Regions from separate parts of the Homo sapiens genome. Here region 2 is linked to region 1. The links come from fine-mapping of genetic effects on gene expression. Tissue or cell type: blood mononuclear cells. Region 1 holds a variant in brackets; the other region holds the start of a gene. All regions are shown on one strand. Distances are from middle to middle.

What was found. PIP is the estimated chance that this variant, and not a neighbour inherited with it, causes the effect.
Region 2: TOM1 starts here. The variant in region 1 is fine-mapped to the expression of TOM1 in blood mononuclear cells (TOPMed, PIP above 0.99). The same link has a PIP of 0.9 or more in monocytes, monocytes after interferon gamma, non-classical monocytes, spleen and whole blood.

The regions. Positions count from the first base shown.
Region 1 is chr22:35,325,082-35,333,185 of GRCh38, forward strand. It overlaps TOM1 (target of myb1 membrane trafficking protein), which reads left to right. Exons shown (of 15, transcript NM_005488.3): 7 at 2,190-2,306; 8 at 5,266-5,399; 9 at 7,900-7,933. Among named protein-coding and RNA genes, the nearest start is that of MIR3909, 6.5 kb to the right of the region's middle. RefSeq lists enhancers at 3,495-3,789, 5,279-5,779. The variant C/A (reference allele first, on the strand shown) is at 3,585.
Region 2 is chr22:35,296,060-35,304,163 of GRCh38, forward strand. It overlaps TOM1 (target of myb1 membrane trafficking protein), which reads left to right and starts at 3,835. Exons shown (of 15, transcript NM_005488.3): 1 at 3,835-3,921. The coding sequence starts at 3,870. RefSeq lists enhancers at 3,410-3,932, 3,859-4,008, 3,933-4,455, 4,409-4,568, 4,979-5,500.

The sequences.
Region 1 (8,104 bases):
CTTTTGGCTGCTGGGGTGGGGGCAGAGGCCTGCACACTGTGGAGACACCCACGTTAAAGGTGTTGTACACACATCAGGCCCATCACATCCGCGGAGCGTAAAGGTGGAGCTGCTGAGTGTGCTGGTGAGTTAGACACGGATGTGTGATGGAAAGAAAAGTGAAGCTTAACTTTCCCAATAAGCGTCCCCACTGCCCACTTTTTGTATCATTTGAACTCATTCTCACCCTAACCTATTTGAAGAGAAACTTCCATGATTTGTTTTCTCATAGCAAGTTATGAAATCACCCCTCAGAGTTACAGATATTACTAGAAAATTTTGCTAACTGGACAAAATTATTAACGCACTGCCCGTTTGCCCCAAGAATACTCTTGTCTCTAATCCTAATGTAACCTCATATACATTTCTGTTACGTTAGGATTGGAGACAAGTTCTGTTTAGAAATAACTCCAAGAACAGTTTTTATGTTTTATTTTCATGTTGAAAATCAGTCAGGTTTACTTCAGCCTCAAAGAGCATGTTTATGTAAAATTAAATGAGTGCTGACAGCGAGCTGCACTTTTTTTTTCTGAGTGGGTTAAAGGTGTGTAAAAAATTGTAAAACCACCTTGTGATTGTCTAACTCAGTTATGATTTTAACCAATTTTCTGAAGTCTAGCATCTGTGTGGATTAAGACGCTAATTACTTCCAATGCAAGAAGGTGCTTGCTAAACAAAACTAATCTTTGTTTAATTCGAGAGTCCCCTTTTGTCTCTTGGGACATGTTAAGACATCAGGTGTGCAGTGATGTTACTCCCAGACTCCTCTGTAATTAAGTCCCATCTGATTTGGATACATGGGGTTTGTGATCAGTAGTTTTTCCACTCACTCATACCAAGAGTGTTCATTAAGTAAGCCAAATAGATCAAACATTTTGCAGGTTTTGGAAGGTGTCAGTGAACCATAGTGGATATACTACTAGTCTCTACACTCCATTTCTTCATCTATAAAAGCAGGGATATTGATGTCTACCATGGTAAAAAATTAAGTTAGCAATATATGTTCAATGCTTGGCACTTATTAGGTAGTCTATAAATGGTAGCTGCTGTCACAATCATGAATGTATATAGTGACACTCTGAAATCAACTATAACTCAGCCACATGATTTAGAATGTACCAGCATTTCTCAAAACATAAAAAGGTTCTTCAGTCAAATAAATCTTAGAAGCTTTCAGACTGATCTTTTCCCAGGCATTCCCAGTGTGCATGAGGGCATTAAACACCCTACAAGGTCCCACAGCATAAGATCCTTATACCAATGGCCTTTCACAAGCTAACCTCTTTGAGGAGACTGCAGCTTTATTGAAAATGTTTCCCCAAGCCCAACTCCTTGGAACCCTTTGACCATTGAAAACCTGCCCACATCCCTTGGAACAAGTGCTAAATCTGAGTTTCATATTCAAGGTGGGGTACAGGGCAAGGACTATCCTTAGATGAGCCTGGGACACCAAAATAGACCAGAAACAGGACAAAATCCCAGTCCACTAGGAGGAGAAAGAGGGCAGAAGCCCAGTCCACTAGGAGGAGAGAGAGGGTGGAATCCCAGTCCTCTAGGAGGAGAGAGAGAGGACGGAATCCCAGTCCTCTAGGAGGAGAGAGGGCGGGATCCCAGTCCTCTAGGAGGAGAGAGACGGCGGGATCCCAGTCCTCTAGGAGGAGAGAGGGTGGGATCCCAGTCCTCTAGGAGGAGAGAGAGGGGGGGATCCCAGTCTTCTAGGAGAGAGGGCGGAATCCCAGTCCTCTAGGAGGAGAGAGAGAGGGCAGAATCCCAGTCCTCTAGTGGGAGAGAGAGAGAGGGCCTGCAGCGTCCCTCCCCGCCTTGTGGGGAGCCACCCTCCAGGGCCTTGTTAGCTGCTGTGTTAGACCCAGGAGATGCTGGAGTCTTCCAGCCACACGTGGTGGCTCATTCCGGTGTGGAGATGGTAACGGTTGGTAGCGCCTCTGTGAGGGGTCTGTAGAAGGGGTGGGGCAGGCCTCTAGTGCAGAGCTGTCACTTTGGGAGCCAGGAGGGAGGCTGCCTAGAGAGGCTGCTGGGAGGTCGGCTCCCTGGTGCTGCACCCAGGGTTGGTGGTACTGGGTTCTGTCGCTGTGAGTAACATGGGCCCCAGAACCCTGGCTTCTCTCACCACGATCAACTGTGTGTTTCAGATTGGGAAGCTGCGCAGTGAGCTGGAGATGGTGAGTGGGAACGTGAGGGTGATGTCGGAGATGCTGACGGAGCTGGTGCCCACCCAGGCCGAGCCCGCAGACCTGGAGCTGCTGCAGGTGAGCAGGTGGCACCACCCCCTGGGGCTCAGATGACTCCTGCCCAGCTGCCCACATGCATTCTTTCCCAATCCTCATGACAGTCTTCATGGCTTACTCCATACTCCTTGGTCACAGTTGGGGACATGTTACCACCAGGGACTTTGGACGCCATCAGATTGGAATCAGATCGCAGCTCTACCACTTTCTGGTTTGAACAAAGTAGCCCCCCTGGCCTCAGTTTCCTCATCTGTAAGATTGCTCTAACAATAGCCTTCATGGCACAAGTTTGATGTGAGTTAAATAAGGTATTGCATGAAAAACACGCAGGCTTGTGCCTGGTACAGAGTAAAGCACCCAGTAAGGGGTCCTGAGAAAAAGCTGGAAGGTGAGATTTACACCATTCAGAATCCGAGACTCAGCAGGCAGGTGTGAGAGGGTGGTGCCAGCCTTGAGATGCGCCAGCCACTGATCTTGGGGAGCCAAGGCAGGTGGAGCTAGTGGTTCCTGCTCCCGGGTGTCACATGGTATTCCCACGGCCCCAGCCCAGATTGGGGGTCACTGGAGCAGAAGGGACACTGAATTTGGCAAAAAGCACCCTCCCCATGGAGGCCAGTCATAGAGGCACCAAGAGAGCTAGGAATCCCCAAGGCCCAGGAGTCACCAGAATCCATGAGGAGACAGAGCGCTTCGTGTAACTGTTCGAGTTCCTACTGCTCGTCCACCAGGCCTCAGGCTCCTTGAGGGCAGCGCTGTGTCTTCCTCGCCACCGTGTCTGTGTGCCTGACCGAGCTGACTCTGCAGGGGTCCTCACTTGGTGGTGCAGGGTGGGGAGAAAAGGAGTAGCCTCAGAGTCCAGTGAATACACAAACTTGAAACCCAGTAAGGGCTCCGAAAGAGAGAAGACTGCGCAGGCAGCCTCGCACGCCCCAAGCCAAGGCCATGAGATGTGAGCAGTCTGGGGACTCAGAAGGCTGAGCAAGGTGGATGCAGGGACAGCTCCCATGCACTGGGCACTTCCCGTGTCCCGGGCTATATGTGGACACTTGGTTCACATCGCTCACGTAATCCTGACCACCCCCATTTTCCAGGTCAGGAAATAGGCATAGGGAGATCAGATAACACGTCCAGGGTTATATGGCTGGTAAGTAGCAGAGCTGCGATTTGAACCCGGGGGCCTGGCTCCAAGTGCTGCTCTTCTGCTCTTGAGAGGGGCCAGCAGGGAAGCAGAAGCAAAGCCACCGTGTGCTTGGTCATAAGAGCAGGAGGGGAGCCCACAGGATGTTGAAAGGCACCCGC[C/A]CTGTCCCCGTGCTAAGGGCGATGAGGAAATCCCGGAGGCCTGACCTTGGAGGGGGCAGGGGACAGGGTCCACATGACAGCCAAAATAAACACTGGGCAGTGCCGAGCCTCAGCGTTGCCTCCAGGAGAAAGGCGTGCTGGCGTGAGGCCACAGTCGGCAATGCCGGGCAGCTCCCTGGACCTCAGGACCCAGGCACCTGCCGTGACCCAGGAACCTTCACCTGGTGGCAGGTACCTGAAGAAATAATTGACCAATCTTAAAAATGAAAACCCATATGGCTATGGTTTTTTATTTTTTTATTTTTTTTGAGACGGAGTCTTGCTCTGTCACCCAGGCTGGAGTGCAGTGGCGCGATCTCGGCTCACCGCAGCCTCTGCCTCTTGGGTTCAAGCTATTCTCCTGCCTCAGCCTTCCAAGCAGCTGGGATTATAGGCATACACCACCATGCCCGGCTAATTTTTGTATTATTAGTAGACACAGGGTTTCACCTTGTTGGCCAGGCTGGTCTTGAACTCCTGACCTCAGGTGATCCACCCGCCTCGGCCTCCCCAAGTGCTGGGATTATAGGCACGAGCCACCGGGTGTAGCCATTTTTTTTATTTTTCATAAGTTTAAATATGACACCTAGTGGTTAAAAGTCGGTGACGTGATAACTAAATGCAGTGTAGGATCCTAGAACAAACAAAGGACATTAGAGGAAAAACTAGTGAAACCTGAATAAAGTCCGCAGTTTAGTTAATAGTATTTTACCAGTTTTAATGTTTAATGGTAGTTTACCAGTTTTGACAAATGCCAGACTAAGGGGAAGCCAGGGTCAAGGGTATATGGGAACTTGTGGTACTATCTTTGCATCTCTTCTGTAAATCTAAAATTATTCCAAAGCTAAAAGTTTGTTTAAAAAGACAAAAAATCAGGCAGTGAGAAAAGTGAGGCAAAAACTCGAAATCGAGGTTTGTGGCTAATGGTTGCAGTCATCTAGTTCATTCTGTATGCTTTGGTTGCAAAAATCACAGCATACCCCCAGAAGTTGTGGTTTGTTCAGCCAGCCCCCTTTGCAGACTCAGTTTTTTTTTGACTAAGCAAAGATGGTGGCACAACCTTTATTCTGGAATCTGCACGAAGCCAAGTTAAACCGGCAGCACAGTTGGACATGTTGATGGTTTCCTGTGGATTAAATTTTAGCATCTAACACTTGGAAGTGAAGTTCAAGTTCATGTTTGTAGAACCCAAAAAGCTGTTCCGTGGAACCTTGAAGTCCAGTTTGGGCACCTCACCCTCCTCCAAGGCTTGTGCAGGGGCTGGAGGCCCGTGCATTAGAGATGGCCTCACTTGGCCAGGCGCGGTGGCTCACGCCTGTAATCCCAGCACTTTGGGAGGCCGAGGCAGGCAGATCGTGAGGTCAGGAGATCGAGACCACCCTGGCTAATATGGCGAAACCCCGTCTCTACTAAAACTACAAAAAAAAAAATTAGCCAGGCGTGGTGGCAGACGCCTGTAGTCCCAGCTACTTGGGAGGCTGAGGCAGGAGAATGGCATGAACCCAGGACACAGCTTGCAGTGAGCCAAGATCGCACCACTGCACTCCAGCCTGGGCGACAGAGCTCCGTCTCACAAAAAAAAAAAGAGACGGCCTCACTCTGAGTCATGTGACTGTGGTTGCCTCACTTCCTTTCCTGGCAGGAGCTCAACCGCACGTGCCGAGCCATGCAGCAGCGGGTCCTGGAGCTCATCCCTCAGATCGCCAATGAGCAGCTGACAGAGGAGCTGCTCATCGTCAATGACAATCTCAACAATGTGTTCCTGCGCCATGAACGGTAGCCCCAGCACCTCCCCTGGCCTCTGGCCTACTGCCCCAACCCTCTCCCTTCCCTTCCTCCCTGTTCTCCTGGTCTCATGCCATCTGAGCCTTCTCTCGTCCTCCTCTCAAACACAAGGCAGGCTCCTAAGGGCCTGTGCCCTCAGCTGTCTTCTTCCAGGATGTTTATGAGGGCCCCTCCTTCCAGCCGCCCTGTATCTCCTTTCCAGGGTTAGCGCTGCTGCCTGTGCCCAAGTCCAGCCCTGGGAGATGGTCACAGGTCACAGCTGAGAGCACGGCCCTGCAACCAGACTGGCCTGGTGTGTCCTCGCCCACTCCACCACTTCCTGGTTCTGGGGCCTTAGACAAGTGACTTCACTGCTGCAAGCTACACAAAACATTTCTGGCTAACTTAGGCAGAAAAAGAATTTGTTAGGATAATAATCTTTATTAAATGGGTAGCTTTCAGAATCCAGAGAAAAGTGAAACTGATGTCTCCCAACAGAACAAGAAAGATGGATCCCAGGGCAGCTCAGATGTCTCAGGAGCAGAAATTCCTGGACCATCTCCCCAGGGTGCTGCCATCAATAAATACATCAGCTCAAACACTTGTCCACAAACACCTGTCCACCTTTTTTTTTTTTTTTTTTTTGAGGCACGATCTTGCTCTGTCACCCAGGCTGGAGTATAGTGGCATGATCACAGCTCACTGCAGCCTCAACCTCCTGGGCTCAAGCAGTCCTCCCACCTCAGCCTGCCAGGTAGCCGGGACTACAGGCATGCACCACCACACCCAGCTAATTTTCTTTTCTTTTTTTTTTTTTCTTTTTGCAGAGACAGGGGTCTCACTGTGTTGCCCAGGCTAGTCTCAAACTCTTGGCCTCAAGCAGTCCTCCCTCCTTGGCCTCCGAAAGCATTGGTATTACAGGCATGAGCCACCACACCCACCTGCCCACCTTGTATCATTCTGTTCAAGAGTCACATCCCCAAGAGAGACTTGGATTGGCTGAGCTTCATTGTGCCTACCAGCTGGGGTATGGGAGAGGGCCCTTTGATGGCAGCCCCACCGGGATGATGTGAAATGGGGGAGGAGCAGTTCCTCTAAAGAGTACTTAGGTGCTATTACAAAAGAAGGAGAAGGGCTGGGCGCAGTGGCTCACACCTGTAATCCTAGCACTTTGGGAGGCTGAGCCGGGAGGATCACTTGAGGCCAGGAGTTTGCAACCAGCCAGGCCAACATGGTGAAACCCCGTCTCTACTAAAAAATACAAAAAAATTAGCCGGAGGTGGTGGTGGGTGCCTGTAATCCCAGCTTACTTGGGAGGCTGAGGCAGGAGAATTGCTTGAACCCAGGAGGCAGAGGTTGCAATGAGCCGAGATCGCACCACTGCACTCCAGCCTAGGCGACAGAGCAAGACTCCATCTCAAAAAAAAAAAGGAAAGAGAAGGAGAAGGATTGCTGGGTCTGCAGAAATTGTGTGCCCATCACACCTCCTCTGTATCTGTAAAATGAGGCTTGTGGCATAAGTGAGAGTCCATGAAACAGTGTCTGTAAAGCGCTTAGCAGTCCAGGGTGTCTGATAACTGACATGAGTTATTCCAGCCTCCTCCAGCCCCTTGTTCATTTTTTGTGTCTTTCTCCATCAAAAGACACTCACTGATTGATTCTAAATCAGTGGAAAGTGGGGGGTACCCTGCAGGTCACGTCTGCCTAGCTTCTCCTGCTCGTTGGCCCAGTGGAATGAAAGGCCTCTTCCCTGCCATTTTGGGGTATGGGCTGTGAGGTGACTGAGGGGCCCCATCTGGTAGCAGCTGGTACCCTCAGATATCCACAGTCATTAGGCTTAATATCTGACTGTGCTTTCAAGCTCGCAGTCACTTATACCCATGTCCTAATTTGGGCTTCAGCACTTCAGGGAGGCAGGTGCCTACAGATACTAGACAAGCAGACTAAAGTTCAGAAGGAACATAATTTACCCGAGGTCATGTGATAAGTGACAAGGCCACGACTTGAACAGACCCCACACTAAAGTCTTCTCGATCTATCACACCGGCCCCTAAGTAGCTCCATAAAACAAGATTAGAGATACATGTATCTTTCTTACAGCACTGAAGAGAGCACTAACACACACACACACACACACATACACACACACAAATATGTAATTGAAACAAGTTTCATAAGACAGTCCTTACCTTTACTGCGTGCCATGCATTCCTATTTTCTTTGCTGTTCTAACCTATTCCTGTTTATTTGTTTCATGCTACTCATGACTAAGGTTGCCTTATAATTGATCATCCAAATTGGGACACTTTTGCAAGGGAAAGAGGAGCACTGCTAGTTACCCAGGGACAGCAGGCATGAACTGGATCTGTCCAGGGCACACCAGACGTGTCATCACCCTGATCATAACCCACCGTGTTGATGTTGAGACCCACAGTTTGAAAAGCTCTGCCTGGCCGTGTGTGGGGGCCTGTCTCAGTCTGTCTCCATAACTCGTGTCTTTTCTGTCTTGTAGGTTTGAACGGTTCCGAACAGGCCAGACCACCAAGGTAAAAGTCTTCTTTTCTGTGACTAGATCAGGCCCTGTTCATGGGAAGAAGGAGTGCCATTCTCACCTCCCTCCCCTAGTAAACTGGACAGGGTGGTGCTGTCTTATCCAGGCCCATAGAGAAATCCCCTTCTAACTTTTTATGTCCCTGTCCCTTTAAGGTAAATAAGGC
Region 2 (8,104 bases), 29 kb before region 1:
TTTATTGGCAAATGAAACTATGTGCATTATGGTGTTGGCCTAAATCAAGAAAATGTTGATTAATCTTATATAAGGGTTGCATCTGAATCATGTGCTAAATGATATGTTTCAGTACTGTCCTGTTAGCATTACAGTAATGCTGTTGATAAGTTACTTAATCTTTATAGGCTTCCAAAGTCCCATCTATAGAATAGTGTTAAAGTCACTTCCCTGTCTGTAGACCTGCAGCCAGCCAGCCTGACATGAATGTTTAATAACATTATGAACACTGAATATATGGAGATATGACCTTTCAAGGTAAAAACTTCAGTGCAAACACAAGGTGTTAAAAGTCATAAATAGTAAAATAATATGATTAATTACAAGGCTAATGTCTTATGGAAAGGCAGCAAGGAAGAGACTACCGTATCACTGAGTGACTATTAGAGTGATTTGCATACTTTGTCTCACTCATCCTCCGCCCAAAGCCTTAAGAATATTATCTCCCTTTATAGATGCGAAAAAGTACTTTTCCTAAGTTTATACTGCTAGTAAATGGCAAAGGCAGATTAAGAACAGTGAAACAGCTGACCCCAAACCCTAGGCTCTTTTCTACCCCAAGCTACTTTCAGATTTAAATCATGTCTATAATTCATCAGAATGCTTTCCATTATCTCAAGTCCTGAGCGAATGTGATTGTGGGAATGCTGTCTCAGATCTTTGCATTGTTCGGGTATCTAGCTGGCTTTCACTCTTGTCATACTATTGTCTTTAAATTTTGAAGGCAAGGTATCTTGATTTTTGTCTGTAAGCACTTAAAGGATTTAATAGATTACATTTATGCAGACTGTCAATCTTAAGAAATTTGAACATTTTAACCCTCAGTAAGGCATGATATTAATTTTACTAAAACACTTAAAAAGTAAATTGAAACACTTTTTACTAAATCAGTTTGCTCCTTATTAGCACACTTTTTAAAGACAGTTTTAATCAGTTTTGTACTAACTTTAATGTTTGCCATTTACATCCCTATCTACTATGTTGATAAAATCCATATACTGGCCAGGTGCAGTGGCTCGTGTCTGTAATCCCAGCACTTTGGGAGACTAAGTCAGGAGGATCATTTGTGGCCAGGTGTTTGAGACCAGCCTGGAGAATATAGCAAAACCCCATCTCTACAAAAACTAAAAGATATTAGCCAGGTATGGTGGCATGCATCTGCAGTCCCACCTACTCAAGAGGCTGAAGTGGGAAGACACTTGAGCCCAGGAGATCAGGGCTACGGTGAGCTACAGTTGTACCACTGTACGCCAGCCTGGGTGACAGAGACTCTGTCTTTAAAAATAAATAAATAAATAAATCCATATACTTCCATTTCTGTTTCAATAGCTATATAGTAATCAGTTTGCATGGAGTTGTTTTTCTTTTTTTTTTTGAGACGGAGTCTCGCTCTGTCTCCCAGGCTGGAGTGCAGTGGTGCAATCTCTGCTCACTGCAAGCTCCGCCTACCAGGTTCACGCCATTCTCCTGCCTCAGCCTCCCGAGTAGCTGGGACTACAGGCGCCCACCACGGCGCCCACCACCACGCCCAGCTAATTTTTTCTATTTTTTTAGTAGAGATGGGGTTTCACCGTGTTAGCCAGGATGGTCTTGATCTCCTGACTTCGTGATCTGCCTGCCTGGGTCTCCCAAAGTGCTGTGATTACAGGTGTGAGCCACCGTGCCCAGCCTGCATGGAGTTTATGATTCCACTTCCTGTTTGGGGGCATATGAGTTGTCTCTGTTTTTGTTTTTTTTTGTTTTTTTTTTTTTTTTTTTTTACCATGAATAAAGTTTACAAGAACTTGTTAAAAGCTTAAAGGAAGGGCCAGAGATGGTGGCTCATGCCTGTAACCCAGGGCTTTGGGAGGCTGAGGTGGGAGGATCACTTGAGCTCAGAAGTTCAAGGACCAGCCTGGGCAACATAGTGAGACTTTGCCTCTAAAAATAAATAAATAAAGGTTAATGGAAGAATCCAAAAGAAGTTCATGCTAAACATAACTCCATATGACCAAGCAATAAGGTTAAGTGAAGAAAGACATGGAAAGTGCCTTGACCTGAAGGTCATCTTAAATGGCCTTCTCCCCGCTTATACTCCAAATACCATTACTGAAACGTAGATCTATTTAAGCTTTCATGTGCTAGTTACTGGGTTAGACAATAGTGGGGAGCAAAACAGAAATAGTAGCCCAGCCCCCAGGGACATCCAGACTCGTGGGGGCAAAGGCATTTGTGAACAGGTCTCATGAGTGTTGTGGAAACACTTCAAAGCAGTTTTTATATTGTACAGTAAAGACATCGGACCCCATGGCTGCTCAAACAAGTGAATCTACAGAGGTGATTAAGTTCTAATTTAGGTTTGTTTTTTTTTTTAAGACACAGCCTTACTCTGTCACCCAGGCTGGAGTGCAGTGGCACGATCTCAGCTCACTGCAATCTCTGCCCCCCTGGGTCCAAGCAATTCTCATGCCTCAGCCTCCCAAGTAGCTGGGACTACAGGCGTGTACCACCACACCTGGCTAATTTTTGTATTTTTAGTAGAGACGGCATTTTACCATGTTGGCTAGGCTTGTTTTGAATGCCTGACCTCAGGTGATCCACCTGCCTCAGCCTCCCAAAATGTTGGGATTACAGGCGTGAGCCACCACACCTTGCTTAATTTAGGTTTTCTGTCATCCAAAATTTGTGCAGTCAATTTACTAGCCTTTCAGATTTAAAAACCACAAACATCACAATAAGTACTTAAGCACCCACAGTAGCCAGACTACTAAGGCCATGGTTATTGTATTTTTGGAGTACATGCCAGAAGAAAAGGTCATAACCCATAGATAGGTATCTAGTGTGTAGGTGTCAGCAGACACACCACACACAGCCAGGAAGGCTGAAGAGATTAGAATCACAACGCTGGGAAAGGCCTTTGAGATTCTTAGCTTGGGGTCCACGGTTGTACTTCAGGGACCCCAGAAACTCCCTGAGGTTATAAGCAAAATTGTATCGCTGCCTTTTTTCTTCAGAAAGGCTCATGGCTTTTGTCAAATTCTCAAAGGAGACTGTGACCTAAATAAAATATTTTTTAAAAATGGTTACGAGTCCTTGATCTAATTCCAGTATCTAGAGAAAATGGGAGCTATGTTTGGCTCACACAGTAAATTTATGGCAGAGACGGGTATTAAAGCCCCACTCGTGACTACATCTGTGCTTTTTGCCATCCTGGGCGCTAGAGGGAATTGCGCTGCAATTCATTAAATTGCCTCTCAGTCTCAACAGATGACAAACCCCTTGCCCTTGCCTCTGATTTAAGGTAAGATAATTTGGGCTGCGAGCAGGGTGCATCTTGGAGCGGGGAGACCTTGACATCAAACAGGAAGAGTCTTACCGGGACAAGGAGACAACAGCCCAGAGAGGCTGTCACCCAGGGTAGGTGTGCAGTCACAGTGAGGTCCCAAGGACTAAGGGCTATGACCCTAAGAGTCTCGGCTTCTGTGTAACTCACCCAAGTCACTTCCCTGGTCTACGACCCAGTTTCCCAAATGTGTAAAGGGTCCTTTAGACCTCGCCCTAAAAGGTCAGGGGCGTGGCTTAAAGAGGACCGCGCTTCCCGGGCCCCGACCCCAGACCCTACATCGTGTGTGACGCCCGCCGCCGCCGAGCAAGCCGCAGTGAGGTCATCGCCCTCCGCCTCGGGGGCGGGACCCTGGCGTCTCAGGGCGGGGCTTGTGGTCGAGCTTCGCGGTGCCACCGCCCCGCCCACGCCTCCTCGCCGGCCTCCGAGTGCGTCACGTGACGGGTCGGTGGCGCTGGCGGTTGCTGTCAGCTGATTCCCGGGGTTGGTGGCAGCGGCGGTAGCAGCAATGGACTTTCTCCTGGGGAACCCGTTCAGCTCTCCAGTGGGACAGCGCATCGGTGAGTCCCTGGAGCCCCCCACAGCTCCGCCCCGGTGCTCCGCACCCAGCTTCGGTCCCCTGGGAAGCCTCCGGGTGCCTAGTCACGGAGGCAGGGAGGGCAAGGAGGCTGGCGTGTAGCTCTCCGACCTGGCTCCGCCCAGCTTTCCTCCCACTCTTGATTGACAAGAACTTGGGCCATTAGGAAGCCTTGGCTTGTGATAGATGTATATGACAGCCAGTAGGTAAGGAGAGAGGGTGGGTCCGGATGCCCACGGCGCAGCCAATGTGCGTCTGCTGGGGTCCCCAATCGAGGGAGAAAGTTTTCGTGGTTAAAGGGACTGCGTGGTTGGCAGTGGCTGGGCCACTCTGCTGGGTCCCGCCGCCTGGGCTCTGGCCAGCTCCTTCCTGGCTCACCGGGCCCTCCGGACACAGACACCTGAGAAGGGCTAGAAGTCCCTTCTCCCAGGACCGCGAAGCCCCGGGCTTGGCGTCTTGGGGCCAACTGGCCAGAGGGGCCCAGCGCCGGACAGCCCGCGGCCAGGCCTCACAGACCCGGGTCTCAGGACGTGTCCGCCTGGGCTCTTTTCTCGACCCAACCTCAAATGGACCCGCACAGACTCTCAGAACCTGAGCAGACAGTGGTCGGACAAACCCTCCTGGTCAGCCCATCTCGGTGCTCCGTAGGTGGGGCAGCCGGGAACTCGGGCCAAGCCAAGCCCAGGGCACCTGGCGCCTGTCTGCTGGTCCGTGGTTCTCTGCACCCTGGTGACAGGATACTCACAGTTCTGTGACGCAGCCTCCCTGGGCCGAGGTTTCCTCACCTGTAGTTGGCGGGCAATAATGGTCCCCACCTCCGTGGGCTTGTTGTGAAGATTAAATTCCTTAATAAATGTGAAATACTTAGAACAATGCCTGGTACATGGCCAGTGCCATATAAAAAAAAACAGTTGTAATATTTATTATCACTGGGCTGGGCACGGTGGCTCCCGCCTGTAATCCCAGCACTTTGGGAGGCCAAGGCGGGCAGATCGCTTGAGCCCAGGAGTTCGAGACCAGCCTGGGCAACATGGCGAGACCCCGTCTCTACAAAAAAAAAAAAAAAAAAAAATACAGAAATTAGCCGGGCGTGGTGGTGCGTGCCTGTGCACCCAGCCACTCGGTAGGCAGAGCTGGGAGGATTTATTGGATCTGGGAGGTCAGGGCTGCAGTGAGCCCTGATGGCGCCACTGTACTCCAGCCTGGACGACGCAGGGAGAGCCCATCTCTTGAAACACATACACATACACACACACACACGCACACATATATATAAAAATATACACATACAAACATACATATACATACACATACATATATATTATATGTATTTACACACACACGTTGTTCCTGAGATCACCAAGTGAAGGTTAGGAATCCCTGGAAATCGCTTGGCAGTAGATCTCATAGGTGCTCATTCTTGGGCACCAACACCATGAGAACCGACATGCCTTCACCCAAACAGCCACACTTCTCCGGAGGATGGTTTGGGTGTTCCGCATTCTTGCATGAAGAAACCATCGCATTACCGTGAAATTACTCTTCATCTTTTTTGATGACGACTTTTCGTCTTAAGTCCAGACTGGGAAAACTTTAAGATGAGACATATTTTCCATTCTTAGTGTCTTGCGAAACCTCACGAAAGCTTGTCGACCCGGCTCTGTGTTGTAATCGCCACCGTGGCTGTCGGTGGCTCTTCCGAGGTTTTGTAATCAATGCTCTCCAAGGGGGAGGTGGCAGTCCAGGATTTACACACCAGGAAGCTCCTGAACCAGGGAGAGGAACTGCCCTCTCAAAGGACCCCTGCCCTCCCCGGACACACACCCACCCCACAGTGAGTCATGGTTTTTTGGAGCTGAAAAGAGAAGGCAGCTCTCCTCTCATCTATATTTCTCTGACTACAGAAACCACTGCTTTTATCACATGCCAAGTTTAAGACTTACTACTTAAAAATAAACAAGTAAATAAAAGACCTGGCTTCAAAGTCAGCCACATACTCTTAAGGCTTTCTGGAAAAGCTCACCTGGGTTCTGGATTTCAGCTAATCAAAGCAAACTTCTCTTCTTACCTTGAAGCGTTGCCTTTCTTGGGCAAGAAATACTTCTGTGCAAAGAGAATGCTACTAAATCATAATACCTTAAAGCACAAATGGAATTTTGCAGGTAAAAGAGCCTTACCTTGGGGATCTTCTAACCCAGTGGTTCTCATCAGAATTCCTAGGAGGGCTTGTTAAATAATGTCGGGGCCCCAACCCCAGAGTTTCTGACTCTCCAGGTCTGCGGTGGGACTCTAGAATGTGAATTTCTTTTTTTTTCTTTTTCTTTTTCTTTTTCTTTTTTTTTTTTTTTTTTTTTTGAGACTGCGTTTCGCTCTTGTTGCCCAGGCTGGGGTGCAATGGCACCATCTTGGCTCACTGCAACTTCCGCCTCCCGGGTTCAAGCGATTCTCCTGCCTCAGCCTCCCAAGGTAGCCGGGATTACAGGCACGCTCCGCCACACCCGACTAATTTTGTATTTTTAATAGAGATGGGGTTTCTCCATGTTGGCCAGGCTGGTCTCAAACCTGAACAGGTGACCCACCCACCTCAGCCTCCCAAAGTACTGGGATTACAGGCATGACCACCGTGTCCGGCCTAGAATGTGAATTTCTGTTGAGTTCCCGGGTAATGCTAATGCTGTTCCAGCCCATCCCCTTCATTTTACACTGGCGGAGACTAAGGTCCAGAGAGGGGAAAGTGGAGGCTGTGACTCATCCAAGACCCCAGTAAATTGACAGCAAAACTGAGTCATTGAAATTTAAACCAAAGCTGAAGAGGCTCCAAAAGTAGAATTAAGAGTTTGAGTTAATCCCCTCAGTATTCCATATTCTTTTAGATAAAGAGGCGGAGGAAGTACTGCTCCCTGGCTGTGATTACTGATGACACAGTATAGCTGCTTATAATTCTGTAAACCAGGCCCCTCCTTGCTGCAGGAGTACCATCTCTTCTCAAGCCTGCCGACTCCCATGCCCTTGTTGATAGTAGAGCTGTAGAGCCATATGGAATTGACATCCCTCAGATGGTGATTCTAATGATGCTAATCAGGAATGAGTGTCAGTCACTGGAATCACAAAGTTCTCATCCACCTCCCCTCCCAACACACACACACACACACCCCTTTGTGCTTGCTGGTCCCTCTGCCTGGGTTGCTTGCTCCTGTGCCCCCACTGAGGAGCTCCAGATCACCCTTCAAAGTACAGGGCATCATCACCTCCTCCCTGAGGCTTGCCCCAAGCCCGACGTTGCTCTTTTACTCTCCCTTTATCCTAGATCCTCAGGCCCCCTTGCCCTATGACTTTGGGCTCTGAATCTCCGCTTCCTCCTTGGTAGAATGTTACTAACAGCATCTGCCTCACAGGGTGGTTGCTGGAATGAAACAAGATAGTCCTCTGAGAGTGTCTCGCACAGTGTGAGTGTATGGAAACATTAGCTCTTCCTGTCATCATCACCATCATCATTTTTATTATTTCTTTTTTTTTTTTTTTTTTGAGACAGAGTCTCAAAAAAGGCTGGAATGCAGTGGCACAGCCTCAGCTCACTGCAACCTCTGCCCCCCAGGTTCAAGTGATTCTCCTGCCTCAGCCTCCCGAGTAGCTGGGATTAGAGGTGCACACCACCATGCCCGGCTAATTTTTGTATTTTTAGTAGAGATGGGGTTTCACCATGTTAGCCAAGCTGGTCTTGAACTCCTGACCTCAAGTGATCCAGCCACCTTAGCCTCCCAAAGTGCTGGGATTGCAGGTGTGAGCCACCACGCTTGGCTTATTTTTATTATTTCTACCCTCATTATACTAATATGCCACCGTCCCACTCTGTTAGTGGTTGTGCATGTCTGTCTCCACAGCTAGGCTGAACCTCTTGAGAGCAGGAACTGTGCCTTATTTCTCCAGACCCTCAGCACCTAGCACGGTGCCTGGCACATAGCAGGAAGGAGGAAGGGAGAAAAGGAAAGTAACATTTTGTGAGCAAACACCATAATAACTCTGCCAGGTATTCTGCTAGCGTCCTGGGTATTAATCTCATGGTGACCCTGTGCGGTTTTGCTATTTTTTTCCCATTTCACCAAAAGTCAGTCTAAGAGAAAGCATCGCTTTCCAGGGTTCCACAGCCACTCAAGGTCAGAATCCAG